Regions from separate parts of the Homo sapiens genome. Here region 1 is linked to region 2. The links come from fine-mapping of genetic effects on gene expression. A gene starts in region 2. The other region holds a variant in brackets. All regions are shown on one strand. Distances are from middle to middle. Region 1 overlaps LY86 (lymphocyte antigen 86). Region 2 holds the start of LY86-AS1 (LY86 antisense RNA 1).

What was found. PIP is the estimated chance that this variant, and not a neighbour inherited with it, causes the effect.
Region 1: its variant is fine-mapped to the expression of LY86-AS1 in whole blood (INTERVAL, PIP above 0.99).

What each region holds. Positions count from the first base shown.
Region 1 is chr6:6,650,927-6,660,514 of GRCh38, reverse strand. It overlaps LY86 (lymphocyte antigen 86), which reads right to left. Exons shown (of 5, transcript NM_004271.4): 5 at 5,533-5,971. The coding sequence ends at 5,888. Among named protein-coding and RNA genes, the nearest start is that of LY86-AS1, 33 kb to the right of the region's middle. RefSeq lists a silencer at 6,468-6,658. The variant T/C (reference allele first, on the strand shown) is at 4,855.
Region 2 is chr6:6,619,267-6,627,266 of GRCh38, reverse strand. It overlaps LY86-AS1 (LY86 antisense RNA 1), which reads left to right and starts at 4,441. Exons shown (of 8, transcript NR_026970.1): 1 at 4,441-4,635. LY86 (lymphocyte antigen 86) reads right to left here. Exons shown (of 5, transcript NM_004271.4): 2 at 2,255-2,341; 3 at 846-974.

The sequences.
Region 1 (9,588 bases), 32 kb before region 2:
CTCAAAGCCCCCCACAGTGCTTTGTTCTTGTCTTGTGCTGCTTACCATGGTTTCTCCATCACAGGAGATTTTTGGTACTCTTCTTCTTCCCTTTTCCTAAAAGATAAGCTGAGTTTGAATTGGGATTATACTATATATTATTTATTTTTTATATTTGATGTATTGTGCTTAATACAATGCTCAGCAAACCGTAGGTGCTGACTAAAGATTTACGAAGGGAAAGAAGAAAACAGTGAAAAAGCCAGATTATGCTTATGGCACATTCACCCAGGTGGGTTTGACAGTGAGTGACCAAAAGCTTTTGTGGAAGAGCATGAACAAATCATGAAACTGACTAGTATTCATGATCCCTTTTTGTTCTGTGCTGTCATCATTGAGTTAATGTAACTGTCATTAGCCTACCTTTGTTTTTAGCTCATTTGCTGCTTGAGTTAACACATTCTGCAAGCCTGCAACTAAAACCATGAAGTGTTTCTTTATTATATGGTGTCTTTCCAAACAGCCAAGCAACATTAGGTAGAAAGAGCCTGGATTTGGAGTGAGACAGAATTGAATCCTGGCTCACTGATGGAGCTCACAAGCCTGGGGAACCTTAGGCCAGTTCCTCAATTTCTCTAAACCCAGACTTCCTCTTCTATCACGTGGACCATTGTGTTACGCACCCACAGGCTGTTCTGGAGATGAAGTATTGAGATGCAGGCCGAGCACAATGCTGGCGCAGAGAGCCTGCACAAATCGTTGTTAGCTTTTACACAATTATTATTATCATGGTGGTTGTTCTGCCTTCTCAGATGTTATCTTTCTGCACTCACATATATTAATCTTTGTAGTTTATGTGGAAACCTTATTGCATCCCCTTGATTATGTCAATGATGTTCTCTGGCTCTTTCTTGAATTTTCTTCTACCACTTCTGAGTGAAGAAAAGGAAAGAAATGATATGATAAAGTCTTCGGTGGCAGGGATATTTTCTGTTTTTCCACCCTTGGGTGGGTTTCAGGGAAATCCAGAAAAATACCAGCTGGCAGAAGGTATCATTGTTTTTGGCTAAAGGAACATTGATACATACCCTTTTCCACAGAAGTGAGGAGACCAAACCACTGGAGGAAAGGAGGTGGTTTTGTGTCACATGTGAAAAGAAAGCTGGGCGCAAGGGGAGAAGAATATTTCAGGCCAGAGCATTTGAATGCAGCTGAAGGCTTCCGTTCCACACTAAGTAACTGAAGACATTTACAAACTAGATGAAAATAACTCTTTTATAAGCCCTATAGGACCCCTGCTTGCCTGATAAAATGATTGGAAAATTAGGTAGACTAACTTGTTTTGCTGATTGAGAAAAATACGGCCAATTCAAACCTGCAGTTGAACTGTTGAGATAATAAACTCCGCCATTCTAACGAGTCTGGGTTGTCATCAGGATGTGGCCCTTTCTGTTCTCGTGCTAGCTATTTTGGATTATCTTTCCTGAAGGCAGACGTAATTGTTACATTTGCAGATGTCACATTTAGTTATGCAGGCATTGGGTGTGTGTCTTTGTGTGCAGGAAACAAGTTTAATTAAAAAAATACACGTATTTTCTTTTTTTTTTTTTTTTTTGAGACAGAGTCTTGCTCTGTCACCCAGGCTGGAGTGCAATGGCATGATCTCCGCTCACTGCAACCTCTGCCTGCCTCCCGGGTTCAAGTGATTCCCCTGCCTCAGCCCCCTGAGTAGCTGGGATTACAGGCATGTGCCACCACGCCAGGCTGATTTTTGTATTTTTAGTAGAGACGGGGTTTTACCACGTTGGCCAGGCTGGTCTCGAACTCCTGACCTCAAGTGATCCGCCCACCTCGGCCTCCCAAAGTGCTGGGATTACAGGAGTGAACCACCACACCTGGCCCACATTTTCTTTCATAGGCCCTTTTGGCCTGGTTATATTGTTTCTGTTTGGGGGCCAGAAAGGTGTATCCAAATGTTTTCCTTAAATTCTTTTCAGAGTTCATGGCCCAGGGAACATGCCCCCATGCCAGGTCTAATAAAACTAGCTACACTTAGAAGAAATCAAGATGCCAAGGGACCATCTCAGGACCCAGAAGGGAATGTGGGCTTATGGGTGAGGGCTGGGCTTCTAGGATTGTTTGCTCTGATGATGTAGGAGGATGGGAGAGGTAAATTAGGAAAAGAGGCTTTAGCACTGCAAGTGAACACCCACCTTAACATAATAATGACTTATTTTTATTGAGTGACGTGCCAGGCCCTATTCTCAGCATTTTACATGCATTTTCTCATTAATTCTCACACTGTCTCTACAAGATAGGTACTATTATTATGGTCAGCACCTACAGATGAGGAAACTGGGGCTTAGACAATAAAAGTCACTTGCCCAGTGAACAGCTAGGAGAGAATTAGAACTTAAAACTGGCCTAATTCGAGACATGATCTGGACATGTCCTTTGGCCTAGTTTGAAACATGCCCTTCCTCTCCCTTTACCCCTTGGCAACTTCCCCAGTTTCCACTTAAGGATATGTGTGGTTCCAGTGGGAATAACTCTGATCCAGGTCTAGGGGTGGGGCATGTGACATAGGCTAAGCCAATCAGGGTAGGGTCAAAGTGATTGGTCAGGATGTTACTGAGCCAGCAATGGGCTCACTGCCTAATGTGCATTGTGGCCAATCCCACTGCACTGGCTTTTAAGAAAAGAAAAGGTTTACTGCAAGTCTACCAGCAAGGAGACAGGAGGAAACACTCCAACCTGTCTCTGCAAGTTGGAGTTTAGGACAGGTTTTATAAGCATGGGGTCATGAGGCATGATCTGATTGGATTTTGCAATGAGGTGATGCTGGGAGGCATAATCTGATTGGATCTTGCAATGAGGTGATGCTGGGAGGCATGATCTGATTGGATCTTGCAATGAGGTGATGCTGGGAGGCATGATCTGATTGGATCTTGCAATGAGGTGATGCTGGGAGGCATGATCTGATTGGATCCCGTCATGGGGTGATGCTGGAAACTGATATGATTGGATCCTGGATCCTGACATGCCGTGTTCACTTCTTAATTAAGTTCCCACTCCTCAGTCTTGCACTGAGGTCCCCCTGTGGTCGCATACTTGGTTCATCTGGGCATGCTCGGGTTACATAACCTTCAACCTGGAGTCCACGGCAACCGAAAAACAACTCACAACTTTATCATATAAGAGTTGAGCCAGATTGGTCTGCTGTGGTTACAAGGAGAGGTCATGTGACCCAAGCCATTCTAATCAGAATGAGTAACAGGGTTTTGGGATAAAGGTCTCTTTTGCCTTCTGTACTGTGGACAGTGTGGATGTGAGGTCTCCAGCTACTGAAATGATTTGCTATTGTGGGACAGACTGTCTGAGGGTAAAGGCAATATTCCAGGAGACCCGAGGTGGAAGAACTGTGGAGAAATGGAGGTGAAGAGCCGATGATGAATGAACCTCAGCAGCAAACGCTGGCTGACACCTAAACCACCCTGGGACTCAGTAGTCATGGGAGACAACCTAGTCCCCTATGCATAAGCCAGATTCAATTGAGTTCTCTGTTCCTCATAGCCAAAACGTTCTAAGAGATGCGATCACACTGTCCTGAGGGGCTTTATCAGCATTCTGCCTAGACTCTAGCCTGACAAAGCTTCCCTTGGGCACTGGAATGTTCCTCAAAAATATTTTTTAAAACGTTCTATACGTAACGATGGAAATTGCCCTCAAAATATAAAGAAGGGCTGGTGGGCACTCCAATGTCTGAAGCTGGCTGATTTTCATAATAATTCCTTAATTGTGGCAGCACTGCATCATCCTGAACCAAGCTGTTTTTTTTTTTTTTTTCTTCAGAAGAGTTTATTGAGGACACATTTTTGGAGTTGTTGATAGTGATTTTTGAAACAGTAGCAATTCTCTTTACAGGAGAAGTCAATTTAGTTTGATAGATTGTCTGGGCACTTTGACCCCACCCCAGCCAGTAACCACACAATGGCTAGCCTGAGAGGGCTCGGCTTGGGGTCACCCACCTCCCCTGACAACCCTGCTTCCTGGGCTGGCCCTTTCAAAGTCATCTTAGTTACTACATCCTGCCAGAGTGTTAAATAATGACAGACTCTAGCGTTTCTCCTAGCAGGGCTGTTCGTATTCCAAGAGGAGACTCCTGAACATTGAAATATGTTTTCAACTTGCTGGAATAAAACTAATGGTGAAATTTAAGGCCCATGACAGGACACTAAGAAAAGACATATTCTGGGACAAAGAAACATTTTTTTTTCTCTCAAATCATGTCCTTAGTGAAACGGCTGTGTACTTGTATATTCAGCTATGACTAGGATAGTCTCCATATATGGAAATTCCAGTTTAACACAAACCTATAGCATCTGAAACTTTCTCTCTCCCTCCCTCTCTCTCTCACGCACACGCACCCACACAGTCAATTTAAAGAAGAGGGCAAAGGGATTGGGAAGGGACTGGCTGAGTTCCACCTGTGTCTTTGGAAGGCTGTGACAGCTGTCTTGTACTGTTAGAACATGTGCGTACACAGAGTCTAGCCAGGGACTTTACTACTTGTGGTGATGGTTACTGAAAAGGGAGAGAGGTGAATGTCTCAAGCTAGAGGGAATGGCCAGGGGCAGGAATCATTTGCTATTCTTGTGCGTAACACCGTCACCCCCATGTACGTTCAGAGGTTTGCTCCTGAGCCTAGTATGACCACGCACGTCTTTTCCCTCGAGCATTATGGGCCTAGGCAAGGACGCTGCTGCAATTTTGCCTGCTCATAACCCAGAAAACCTCAGATGCTGGTTTTAAAGTTTGACAGGCATTTTTGACCTGCTATTCTAGGTGGTTTACTGATGTATAAACAGTGATTAA[T/C]AGCAACTACTGTTTTTTAAACTATGGAATTTTTTTCTCTTTTAATCTCTAATATAGTGGCATTTTTATGAATGATAGTGTCAACTCACCCACCTTACTCCAGCCCCTTAGCAGGAGCAAGAGGGCCAGCAGGGACACTGGAAGGACAGGGGCGTCGGATGGTGAAGGGGCTATGCAGCCCACCATGCGATCAGTGCATCCCAGGAGAGAAGACGGGGCCGCAGAAATGGCTCTGGAAGTAGCATGGGCAACATGCTCATTTACGGAGAGCATCGTAGAAGACAACTTAAGAACACAGCACCTGATACACATTAAGTGTTCAGGAGTTATTCCTTGCATTCATTAATGAATGCAGTAATGAACGCCAGCATATGCTGAGGTCAAGTGTAATCATGCTTTGAGGGATGAAGGTGAAATGAATGTTTGGATAAGCGAGAGTATGATGTCCCTATTCGTGAGGTTGCATCAGCTTCTCGGCCCTCATGGTCCAAGGGTGGGGGCCTGCCCAGGAGAAGCAATGGCACATTTTCCCAGTGTTCTAATTTTAGCCAGGCTGTCACCCTCCTGAATTTCTTGGAACTGCTTATGCTGCACCAGCATCCGGCACTGTATCTGGAGGAAATGACTTTTTAACTACAGCATTGTAGTAAGATTCTTTGAACAAACCACAATGAACAATGGTGGCCAGCTTTCTTTATTCTTGGTAACTGTGAGGAAGCACTCCTAAAAAGTTGAAAAGCAGGTGAGTCTGGTGGGAGGCGACCAATTAGAGAAAAAGGATGGACCCTCAAGACTGCTTAAGGACTGCCAAGAGGCTCCTTAGAAACAGATACATTCGGGGACTTCATTACATCTGTGGAGTCTGGGGATGTCTGGTCCTGGGACTAAAATTAGCAGCTGCACTCTTTGGGGGCGCTTCTTTGTAGAGCCTCTCTCTGTCATCAGCTGCTTCTCCTCCCACAGTAGGTTCAGTCAGAGGAGCTTGGAGGTCCCACGAGATGCAGCTGGCTGTGATTTTTGCTACAGGCCACAGTCAGGAGCACATGATAGTAGCATTGGCACAGGCCACGGTGGACCGTTTTTCAGTGTACAGTTCCAGCAAAACCTGGTATTCTCCCTGCAAGGGGCACAGGTCAAGTATTAGACGTGTGACCCACAGTACAATTAACCATTTAACAAATATTTACAGAGAAACTTTTATGTGCTGGGTGCTGTTCTGGACATTGTGGATAACGTAGAACAAGACAAGCCAACCCCTGCCCTGTGGAGCTGACAGCATCTCTGGGAGAGACAGACCACCCTTATGATATGTGACTATGTATGGTGTGTCAGGTGCTCATGTCATGGAGAAAACTCATGCAGGAAGGGAGTGGATGGAAGCACTGGATGGGTCAAGGCAAGTGCTGGTCTGCAATTTTGAGCAGGGTGGTGAAAGGAGGCCCTGCTGAGACGACGACATTTAGGCAAAGACCTGAAGCAGATGCAAGAAGGTGCAGTGCTGCTATGGGCTGGGGCCCCCACCTTAGAGGGGCAGAAGGAGGCCAGTGGGGCTGCAGGGAGTGGGGGGATGGGGGGGGTGAGGTAAGGGCAACACAGGAGGCCAGACTCTTAGGGCCTCAAAGGCCATGGTGGGGACATCAGCTTCCACTCTGAAAGGGACTCTGGTCAGGAGAGGGTGGCCTGCCCTGGCGCCTGTGTCGGTAAGATCCCTCTGGCTGCCTCACTGAAAAGCCCAGATGGGAGGCGATTGCAGGAATCCAGGTGAGAGATGAAGATGACTTGGAGTAGAGGTGGAGGTGGGGGAAGGCTTTGGGTGCCAGAGAGATTTTGAAAGAACAGCCAATAGGATCCGCTGAGGAAACGCAAGTGGGTGGGAGAGAAAGAAATGGGTTAAAGGTGACTCCAAGGCTCCTGGCCTGAGCAACTGGAAGGAGAAAGGTTTGTATGCTCAGACAGAGAAGACCCCGGGGAGCACAGTTCACCAGCACAAAACCAAAATGCACCATCACAGAAAGAATGGCTGCCTTTGGGGATCCTTGCTGGCAGCAACACTGTAAGGAGGTCTCCCTTCCTTTGCAGTCAGCTTGGCAGAAGCCACCTGGCAGCCAGGTCCTATGAGGACTGTAGAAGAGCCATTCTGGTTTTGTTTGCTGCCAGCACCCCAGTCCTGCACCCCAGCAGCCACGGAGCGGTGATGTGTTTGTAGACACGAATCTGGAGAGGAAAATGCTCTGGGGTGGTTGGAGGGTCGCAAGCGGAGCAGAGGGACTGTGGCAGAGGAGGCCAGGAGACTGCTGGCACATCTTTGAACTGCCTGTCACCCAAAGGAGGAAAGAGTTTAATCTGTATAAAGCAAGAGGGAAGGAGTAGGTGAGACCACCGGAGAGAAGCTGCATGAAAGGTGGCTTTTGTTAGAAGGGAGCAACTTTCTAGCAATGAGCAGAGCTTCCAAAGAGAGTGGAGTCCCCAACACTGAAATTGTATTCAAGAGAACCAGGCTGTGCTCTGGATGGTGCCTTGGGTGTGATTCCATGATTCTAGACGCTCCCATGAGTCACACTCCTCAAATATTGAGCAGCTGTAATTTTAGAAATAGTGTTAGGAATATAACCAAAGCAGTCCAAATGTTAGAGAATTAATTATGAGTAAAGACCGGCTCAAATTTATATCTCGTTGTGTTTCATCGTTCTCTTCCTCCTCATGTACTTTTCTTTAAAATCTCTATGTGCATTTAGACACACACCTACAAATGTATTGAACAACACAAGAATTTTTCATTACTACATTATGAACCTAAGAGGAGCTGTTGTATTTGAAGGAAGGGGTTCTAGATTATGAATTACAGATATCACAGACTCTGGTATAAGAGATAAGAATATTTAGGCAAGCGTGCCAGGCTGGAGGCAGATGGAGGTGTGTGCTGGGAGGCCAGGAGGCCAGGGTAGGGAAGGACTGAGTGCAGCGTTTCTGCTGTTGAGGAGGGCACAGAGTTTGTAAGTTAGGAATTTGTAGGTGCACCTTTGGCAATACATGGGTCAGGCTGTGCCTACAAGTTGTTGTCCACATGCTTCGGGAGCCCAAAGGATCCCCTAAATTTTCATTCAGAAAGCAGGAGGCATAGACAGAGGACAGCAGGTAGGGCTTCAATCCGGGCCAAGGGGTTGGATGAGTTCAGAGGGAAATAATACCAAGACCCTGGAGAATGATCGCTGAGTGGGAGCGTTTTTGGCCACATGGGAACTGCCATTAGCCCAGAGCCCATCTCTGGAGGATTTAGCTGGAGGAGGGGATATGGGGTACGTCTTTTACAACCAAAAGTCTTTGAACTGTGTCTGTTCCATATTAAGAAAGCAAAGCCTCCGTGCATTGCGGGCCAGCCACGGCTGACCTGCAGCCGGTGTAGGGAGCCCATTTTGGGATTAAGGCCTCCAGCTCTCTCTGCTGTACATGCGATGCCCTCACACTGGGCAATATTTGCTTGAGTACCATCAGCGGTTGAAGAACTTACGTTCTGCACTTCCTTCATGCACTGTAGGTGATTAAAATAAAGCTTTTTACTTATCTGGTCAACCTTTTTCCTTTTTTTTTTTTTTTTTTTTTTTTTTGAGATGGAGTCTTCCTCTGTTGCACAGGCTGGAGTGCAGTGGTGTGATCTCGGCTCACTGCAACCTCCGCCTCCTGGGGTCAAGCGATTCTCATGCCTCAGCCTCCCGAGTGGCTGCGATTACAGGCGTGCACCACCATGACTGGTTAATTTTTGTATTTTTAGTAGAGATGGGGTTTCACCATGTTAGCCAGGCTGGTCTTGAACTTCCAACCTCAAGTGATCTGTCTGCCTCGGCCTCCGAAAGTGCTGGGGTTACAGGCATGAGGCACTGTGCCTGGCCTCTCAACTTACTTTCAAAGGGGTTTTCTGACTTTAAGAAGTTCTTTTCCCCTCTATCTTATAACAGTTGCTGAGTAACTGGTTTAAAAAGAAGCCAACAATGCAAAAGTGAAAGTCAATTGTTAGTAAATTTTAAGTCAGCCTCTAGTTGGGAGGAGGGTCAGAAGAACAATGGGGAAAGAAAAACAATTCAAATAGCAAAGATTTAAAGAAAAATGGAACTCTCTGGGAGAGTTTAGGGCCCTCATACTAGAAGTGAAGACAGGTGTAGTTTTTCTTTCTTGCAAAACTTTTGTATTTTACTGAAAGGCCTGAGGAGGAAACTAGAGATTTCCAGAGGGAGAGGGCTGGAGACTTCCCAGCTGCAAGAGCAATGATAGTGGGAATCTGAGATGGTAGCAAGATGGCACTCTGACATAGGAACACAGAGGCTGGGAAAGAAAGGAAACAAACCCAGAGGTGAAACTAAGTTAGAGATTCTTTATGGAGAAAGAGACCTTTTTCTTCAGCCAAATACAGGTTTTGGAGAACTGAAAGGATGAGGTTGTAAACAAAACTATTTAAAGTGATTACATTTTTGTAATTGCACCCCCATGCTTATTGCAGCACTATTCACTACAGCAAAGACATGGAATCAACCTAAGTGTCTATGTATGGATGAATGGATAAAGAAGATGTGGTATATATACACAATGGAATACTATATGGCCATAAAAAAGAATAAAATCTTGTCATTTGTGGCAACATGGATGGAACTGGGGGTCATTATCTTAAGTGAAATAAGCCAGGCACAAATACAAATATTGTTTATTCTCAATTATCTGTGGGAGCTAAAAAACATGATCACA
Region 2 (8,000 bases):
CTCTTGAATGAGAAAATAGATAAAGGAGTATTTCTGAGATGTGGGGTGAGGGGTGTATTGGGGGTATGCCCTGCCTTGGCCAGTGGGAGTAGGAAGGAGACCCTGGGAGGGGAGAGCAGCTGGGAGAGAACCACTCCTGGGGAAGGACAGTCAGAGAATAGAGCCAGGTTTTAACCACACCGCGGAAGCATCTCAGGGCCTTGGTGAAGCTGTGGGTAAAGACAAGGAGGAAAGGAGAGGTGGGGACAGGTGGGGGAAGGTGACCTGCCCTTTCTTCAAGGCTGTATGGCAGGCGGTAGAGGGTTGGTGCACTGCCGAAAAGGTAGCTAATATAATGGGGTTTCCGTTTCTCTACTTCGAGTGTAACTCCCGGATGCCCTGCTAGTCAATGACCCACGTGGGAAAGGTGGTGACATATCATAAGCTTCATTTTTTTTTTTCGTTTTTGAAGTCCATTACTATATTAAGGACATCCTGCCACTAAGGAAGTTGTGGAGGGAAAACCTGGGAGCACTCTGAACCTCAATGGATTTTTGGAACCTCTTGGCTCTTTCTGCTGCCAGCCCTTTTTTATAAGATGCTGCTACTCACAGTAACAATGTTCTGTTTTAAAGCATCTCATACGTGTCATTTCATTTTGATATTCACAACAGCCCTGTAAGGTAGGCCTATGGAATGGGCCTTATTGTTATTTTTCTGCAACACATGCTGATAAGTGAGGATAAGCTCGTCCAAAGGCGAGGGGCAGAGACAGAGCTCTGGTCTGGGCGTCCTGGCCTCAGATGCAAGTTCGAGTTTATCTCTCTGCAGGCCCCTGCCAGCAGTGAGCAAGACAGATGGCTTACCTCCTTTCCTTCTTCCACAGAAAGAAAACTTGGGCAGAGCCGCCTCACAGATGGGATAGGAGAAATTCAAAACAGATGAGCCTTGAGACATGAGAGCTAGGTCAAGAAAAAGCTCTTTGATGTCCTCTCCTGGAGGAAAGAGAAGAACAGCTTTACTCTTACTGCGTGTTTCACTGTGTATCAGAGGCATTCACAGTATACAGCAGCATGAGCTAAAGAACCTTTTGTTTCCATTAATCTTCTCTGTGTGGGGAACAGTTTTCTTCTTTCCTTGGTAAAACAGCATTTAGGCAATGCTACAGGGGATTATGATGGGGCCCTGCGTATGAAAGGTGGCTGTTTCTCAAAATACCTGCTTGGAACAAGGTAGTTAATCAGCTGAGCTCCCCACCCTGATGCTATGGCCTTTTAATGTGATGTCTGCAGGTCTGGCTTCTGGAATTTCTCAGTTGCATAGTATCATTTGTTCCCCATGATGGCGGTGGGGTGTGGTCACGCCTACATACACCTGCTGCTGTTGCCAGGGAGGTATTGCAGCACAGGTGCACAGGAAGCTGCAGCGGGTTCCATGGTGGTGGCTTCCAATTCTCTCTTTTTCTCCATTCCTCCCTTTTATGTTCCACCCACTCTTCTATTTCTCTTTTCTCGCTTTTTCTCTCCCCATAACATTTCTCCAGCTGCTGCTAGAGTCCAGATACTGTGTAAGATTCTAGAAATACAAAGATGCGTGAGAGTTCTTGATTTCTATGAATGTTCCCTCCATTTCTCTGGAATGATTCCACATGCTAAGTTTATTAAACCTCTCTACTTTGATTTTGATATAACTGCTTTGGAAAAGGAGGTCGTCTAGTAGCTATAGAAAATATATTGACCAACTATAATTGCATGATCATATGAAAATTAAACAATCAGAAAGTGCTCTAGCTTACTGATTGGGGTAGGAGAGAAAATATTACATCTCCTCCTTGCCGATGTCAAAGTTTAAGAATTTGTATTAACTATTTGGGATACAAAATAACACAAATGACAAACCGTACCGCTGGTAGTAGATTTATTTGTTGCTGAGATAACTAAAAAAGTTAGGAGATCCTGAGTAGACATTAATACTTAATCTCAAAATATTTTCCTTTTTTTTTGCTGGGTATACTGATTCCAGGTGCTTATATCATCCAAATGAGTGCCTAGAGTCTTTTTAATACAAAAGTACAGCTTTAAGTGAGAGTTCTACCCTACCTGAATATAACCCAGAGAAAGATTTGAAAATGAAGATATAAATAGAGTTAATTCCAGAGAGTGGTGAGGGAACAGTAGTTTAGCCAGTCATTACAGTTAACATAAGTCATTGGGTGTGTGGAGTTGGAAGAGGCTGTGCAATGTTTTATTTCATGCTAATCATTTTTTTTACTTACTCAGAATAATTCCAAATCTAATGTTGATATTTGATTTTAATTGCTTGGAACACTTTTCAACAGAAAAGCCAAAATCTTGTAATGGATCTACGAAGAAGAAAACAATAGATTAGTTGCGAGTACATCGTATATTTTGCAAACATATTCAAAATTTGCAACAATATTGTTTTCACATGAATTGCTACATTTATTCAAAAGCATATTGCCCAACACTTTTTAAAATAAGCCCATGATATTTTCATCAGCTCCCCCCCGTGTCTTCAAAGCCAACATCATGTTCACTCTGACAACAGGGGGCCTCCATCCATGGAATAAACAGGGTCTTGCTAGTTGGGTTATATCTTTACTTGTTAATGTTTTTATCATAGAAAATGTTTATCATTGCCTGAATTTTTTTAGTTCCTGAACGTTTGGCCTTAAAATTGCTCATGGATTGCATAGCGGATTTAATAAAGTATCTATTATTATTATCAAAACAGAGGGAGATACAAAAGTTAGGAGAGCTTGAGTAGACATTAATACTTAGGCTCAAAATATTTTCTAAAAAGATTTTCAAAGTTAAGACCTGCCTTTCTAATTCCATTTTATCCCATCCCATCCCAACCCATCCCATCCCATCCCATCCCATCCCATCCCATTTAATGTAATGCTTCCTCCTCCAAATATTCCACTATGTACAAGGTATTGTGTTAGATATGATAGGGGCTATAAAGATAATATTTTCTGCATACAACTTCTGCTCATTCACAAAGCTCCAATGGCTTATCTATGCCTCAGAATACAGTCCAGAAATGAGCGACTGGCTCCAACTTCCATCCTCCACATCACAAATCCATCCTTCATTCCTTGAGGCCAGAGTGGCAACATACACACCAGCACATTCCCACCATGTTTGATTTGCTTGTGTGCTTTCTCCCATTTGCAATGGTCTTAGTCTTTTTGGCCATTATCTAAATCCTCAGGTCTTGCTCATTCCCATCTTCTTTGTGAAGGCTTCCCTGCCCCCATATATTCTCTTGCTTCCTTGAACTCTTAAAACAGCGATGTCTGGCATTCTTGGTAAAGTGTACAAACATGTATCACTCTGCACTTTGCTACGTGGCTTATCCTGCAACACTGAATCTAAACATGAGATTTCTTAAAGGCCAGAGCTGGTTTCTTGTTTTGTTTTGTTTGTTTTGCTTTCCATTTCCTTTTCCTTTATGTTTCCCACTGGACTGGAGATAGGAGAGCTATTTTTAACAGAGGGTTTACCTTGTACTAATAGCTGAGCCTTGTACTTTAGGAGTGTTTTCCATTTAATTCTCTAGGTTCCCCAACACCTAGCAGAGAGCCTCACAGCCTCACAGTCTGATCCACAGTAAGCACTCCATAAATGTACATGTTGAGTGAATGGATGGGCCATATATTGGGGCTGTTTCTCAGCTCCAAATCCAGCCCTCTTTCCTCTGCTTTTTCACTGGGCTCTCGGTAATCATGTTTCTCCTTCACTGTCTGCCAGTCAAGGTAGCAGAGAGATGGAGGCTGGAGTCGAAGAAGGGACTTGCTCCTTCGTGAGTACTTGCTGGGAGTGTCACTGGTGATGGCCCATCATGTTGGCAGTGGCAGTTGGTTCCAGTTTCCAGCTCTCTTGCACCTTCCCAGCTTCAGCTGAGACTCAGCTCTGCGGGGCCCTAAGCTACTGCAGTAACAGCACATCAGAAGCTGTCACCCTTTCCTTAGCAGCCTGTGTCTCAGCTCCACAGGGTCCTTCTGTCAAGCATCCAGTTTCTAATCCCCACAACCTCTGCCTTTTGCTCTCCCAGCCTTCAGGGGTCCTTTCTTTGCTCTTTTGGTTCTCCAGCAACTGGTTCTCTAACCAACTTCCTATATCAAATTCTCTCTGTTAAAATAACTGATATGGTCTTCGTTTTCCTGACAGCACCCAGACCTGCAGAATAAACAATAATCTGAAGAGATAGGTATGATTTACCTCATTTTACTGTTACGAAAATATAGACTCGGAGATGTTGTATTAACTTATCTAGATCCCCACACTAGAAAGTGTCAGAGTCAAGATTCAAAGCCAGAGTTAAAACCAAACAAACAAACAAATTGCTCCCGGGTATTGTGCAGTGAAACTCACAAAGTAGAACCTCAACTACATATGTTACTTATTTGATTTGTAAGATTGCCCAGAATATTTTGTGTGCAGGCATATGGCATCTGGTAGTTCTGTTTCATAACTGATTTCCATTTCAGCTTAGCTATGAGCTCACATTTGCCAATGTAGTGTTCCAGACAGTTTTATCATCCACATTGCTGACCTGGAAGATGCATCATTGTCTATGATATCTGCAATGGAAATGATCACTAGGCAATTTCAGCCTTGCAAATCTAACGTAAGTACACTTTTGTTTGATCAAAACCCCTTTGGTCCAGTCACTAATTTTCCTAAGGGTGGGAAAGAGCCCTTTTGTCTTATGCTCATTGGACTCCTTCCTAAGTATCTCTGTGCTGTCCCAGGGTTTCTTTCAGCCTGGAAAATAGGAGCAGGGGGTTGGAGACGATAGTTCCTGCTACATCCTTGGCACTCAGTATTGAAAAAGACAGAAGCCAATGAACAGATGCTTAGGAAGGTGAATCCTCAAAATTGTGGATAAATTTAAGTTGCTATCCAGGCAAAATAAAAGAGGCTAAGTACGTATTGTGTTGTTGATTAGCAGCTATAGAATTACACTGTATGTTTATCAATATTTTAAAGGTATAGATAGAAAGAATCAACTAAGGGCGGGAGAAGGAAATAAAGCATTTTCTTGGTACTAGAAACACATTGTTGTTAGGAAAATAATCTCAATAAAGAACAAAGTCACAAAGAAAGCTGTAGGCTGCATCTCTCTGAGGATATGTATATAAAAGCAGAAAGACAGATTGCTTAAAAAGCGCTTAAGGGTTTGGTGAGCTTTCCTAGCAGTTATTTCAAATTTATATGCAAGAGTGATATCTTTGAGTGTAAACATGCAGTTTGTGGTCCTCTTGGGGAAAGTGACATTGGTTCTTCCTCCTCCCCCAACCCCACCCTCTCAAACTCATATCCTTCTCTGTATTTATTTGCATTTCCACTCAGGCACTTTGCATGTTTTATATTACATTATATTTGTTTGTATACCTCTGTCATTCCTCCACTAGATACTGCAAAGCTAACTCCCCAGTGCCAGGGCTATACATAATGTCTTAATATCATACTAAATCTCCAGTGATTGTTTGCTGGATGAATAGTAGTGGTTATTTGTAGTAAATTTGCCGAGAACCTTAAAGCAGGATTCCTCAATGTCATCACTATTGACATTTTGTTTTGGATATCCTTTGTGGTGGGTGCTGTTCTGCACATCATAGGATGTCTAGAAGCATCCCTGGTCTCTACCCACCAGATGCCAGTAGCATCCCCATACCCTCTAGTTGTGAAACCAAAAATATCTCTAGACCTTACCAAAGTATCCATGAGGGATAAACTCACCCCTGGTGGCGATCACTGCTTTAAATAATCACTGTATCAATTTCCAGGCTTTACCTATCCTGCAAATGCCTCAGAATCACCTACCAATATAAAAGATGGTAGGTTGCATTTTAAAGTAGTTCTCCTTCTACAGTATGAACAGTGACGGACAGGCTGAGAGCGGAGAGACTTTCCCTTGGACCCTTGCCTCAGTAACTTTTAATACATGTAAGACGGATCATCTGACTTTGGACTTTCTGAAGCAATAACATCGGAAAGTTAATCAGAGTTGGCGTTCTGGGAATTCAAGGGCAGAGATAAGTGTTTCCTCCAGATACTTCACTGTATTTCAGCAAATGACCTGAGGAAAGAAGTCAAAACTTCATCACGAAATAGAAGACTGTTCATTTTCAATATTTCTTCCTTGGCCTCTATGTGGCACTCCCTTGCTGTCTGTCCTGTTGACTTCTATGGCTTCCACCCAAGGGAGGACAGCATTATAGTGGGTGAATCCAGCACACCCCAAACTGCCCCTGCTCCCCTCTCCCCCGGGCATGTGGGCCCTCGAAGGCAGGCTTCTCCAAACCAGCAGCATGTGAACCCTGCCAGAAGTGAGGAAGAGCTCTAGGAGAGCAGCCAGCAGCATCTGTTTTGCATACAAAGGGCAGCAACAATCAAATCTCTTCTAGAAAAGTTTTCTTGGACATTCATGGAGTAAAATAGAGTTGGATAAACAAGCCAGGTTTAGAGTGAGCAGCGTTTGAACAAATATCAGCTCCAAAGGTATTGTTGTGCCTTCCACCCTCCATTAGTGGCCTAGGCTGGGCTAGACCTGGGCAGCTGTCGAGGGGAGGACAACCTTGTCAGAATGGCTTCTATTAACAGCTAGCAGTGGGCTTTCAACTGGAATCAGTAGGAAGAAGACAAAATCCAATGACACAGACTCTGGAAGTGAAATTCCTCAGCAGAGGATGGTGGGGGCCCGGGTACACTCCACTGGACCAATCCTTGATTTGACTTCAGGCAGCCGGAAAGCTTGGATGTATGTCCCTAAGTCCTGGAGGCCATGGATGTAGCTCCGCCCCCTGTGGCCTCTGCGTTGCTGGCTGGTTAGTTTGAGGCATAGAGGAGGGCCCAACTCTTACACAGCTAGTCCCATTTTCCATATTCTAGCTCTACTTGAGGTTTTTCTTTAGCTTTATATTTTGAAATAATTATATTTTCACAGGAAGTTGCAAAAAGATACAGAGAGGTCTCATATGTCTTTCCCCATCATCCCCCATGGTAAGATCTTACATGGAGGACAATACCAAAACTGGGACATTGACACTGATACAATCCACAAAGTTTATTCAGATGTCACCAGTTTAACAATCATTCGTGTGTGTGTGTGTACAAGCGCATGTATGTGCCTGTTTTTTACATTTCTATTGCTTGGGTTTAAAATGGTTAGAAATTGGTCTTCCTCCTCTCAGGGGAAGGTAGAATTCTTACAGCAGAGTCGCTGTGAAAAGGAGCTGACCCCCCTCCAATCTCACTTCCACCAGCCTTCCACATACTCATGGCCAAGTGCAACCCCAAGATTGCAATGTCCTTCCTGCTTTGTAAAGGTAGTCTTTCTCCCCCTCCCTTTCTCCTAGCTCTCCTCTTCTCTCTTCCTGTCTCTCATTCTTTCCCTCTCTCCCTGTCTCCCTCCCTTTCTCTCTCTCTGTTTCTCTTTTTCTTCTCATACCAGTACTTAGATCTGGCTACCATCCTGAGATTAAGAACACTGACTTTTCTTCAAACACATCTTAACATTCATGGCTCATTCCCTGTGGCCCACATTACTCTAAGAGCTGGTATTGCTTCCTGCATGTGCTTTTGGCAGAACACAGGCTGGCCCCAGGAGGATGTTAGGTATTACAAGCATGCTTCCAATAGAGGCACGACCTGCGGAGGAGAAAGGGCGTAGAGGGCCCAGGAGACCTTACCAGCCACAGGCAGCTTAGCTGCACTGGCAAGACTGCCTCTAGCAAACAGTTTATGGAGGGAAGGAAAAATTGGGTTAACAGAATGTGAATAAAGCTGGTCTGCTTCTGACTGCTCAATAAAACAGTACTGGATGGTTGTTTAATAATGGGGGGGTGTGTTAGGGTTCTCTAGAGAAACAGAACCACTTGGCACTGGAGACAGAGTGTCTGAGTGTGGTTGAACTGCTAGTCCCGGGCCAAATAGTAGCAGATATTCCTCTGCATCTTTCAGAATTCTTTCCCAAATGTAACAAAATAA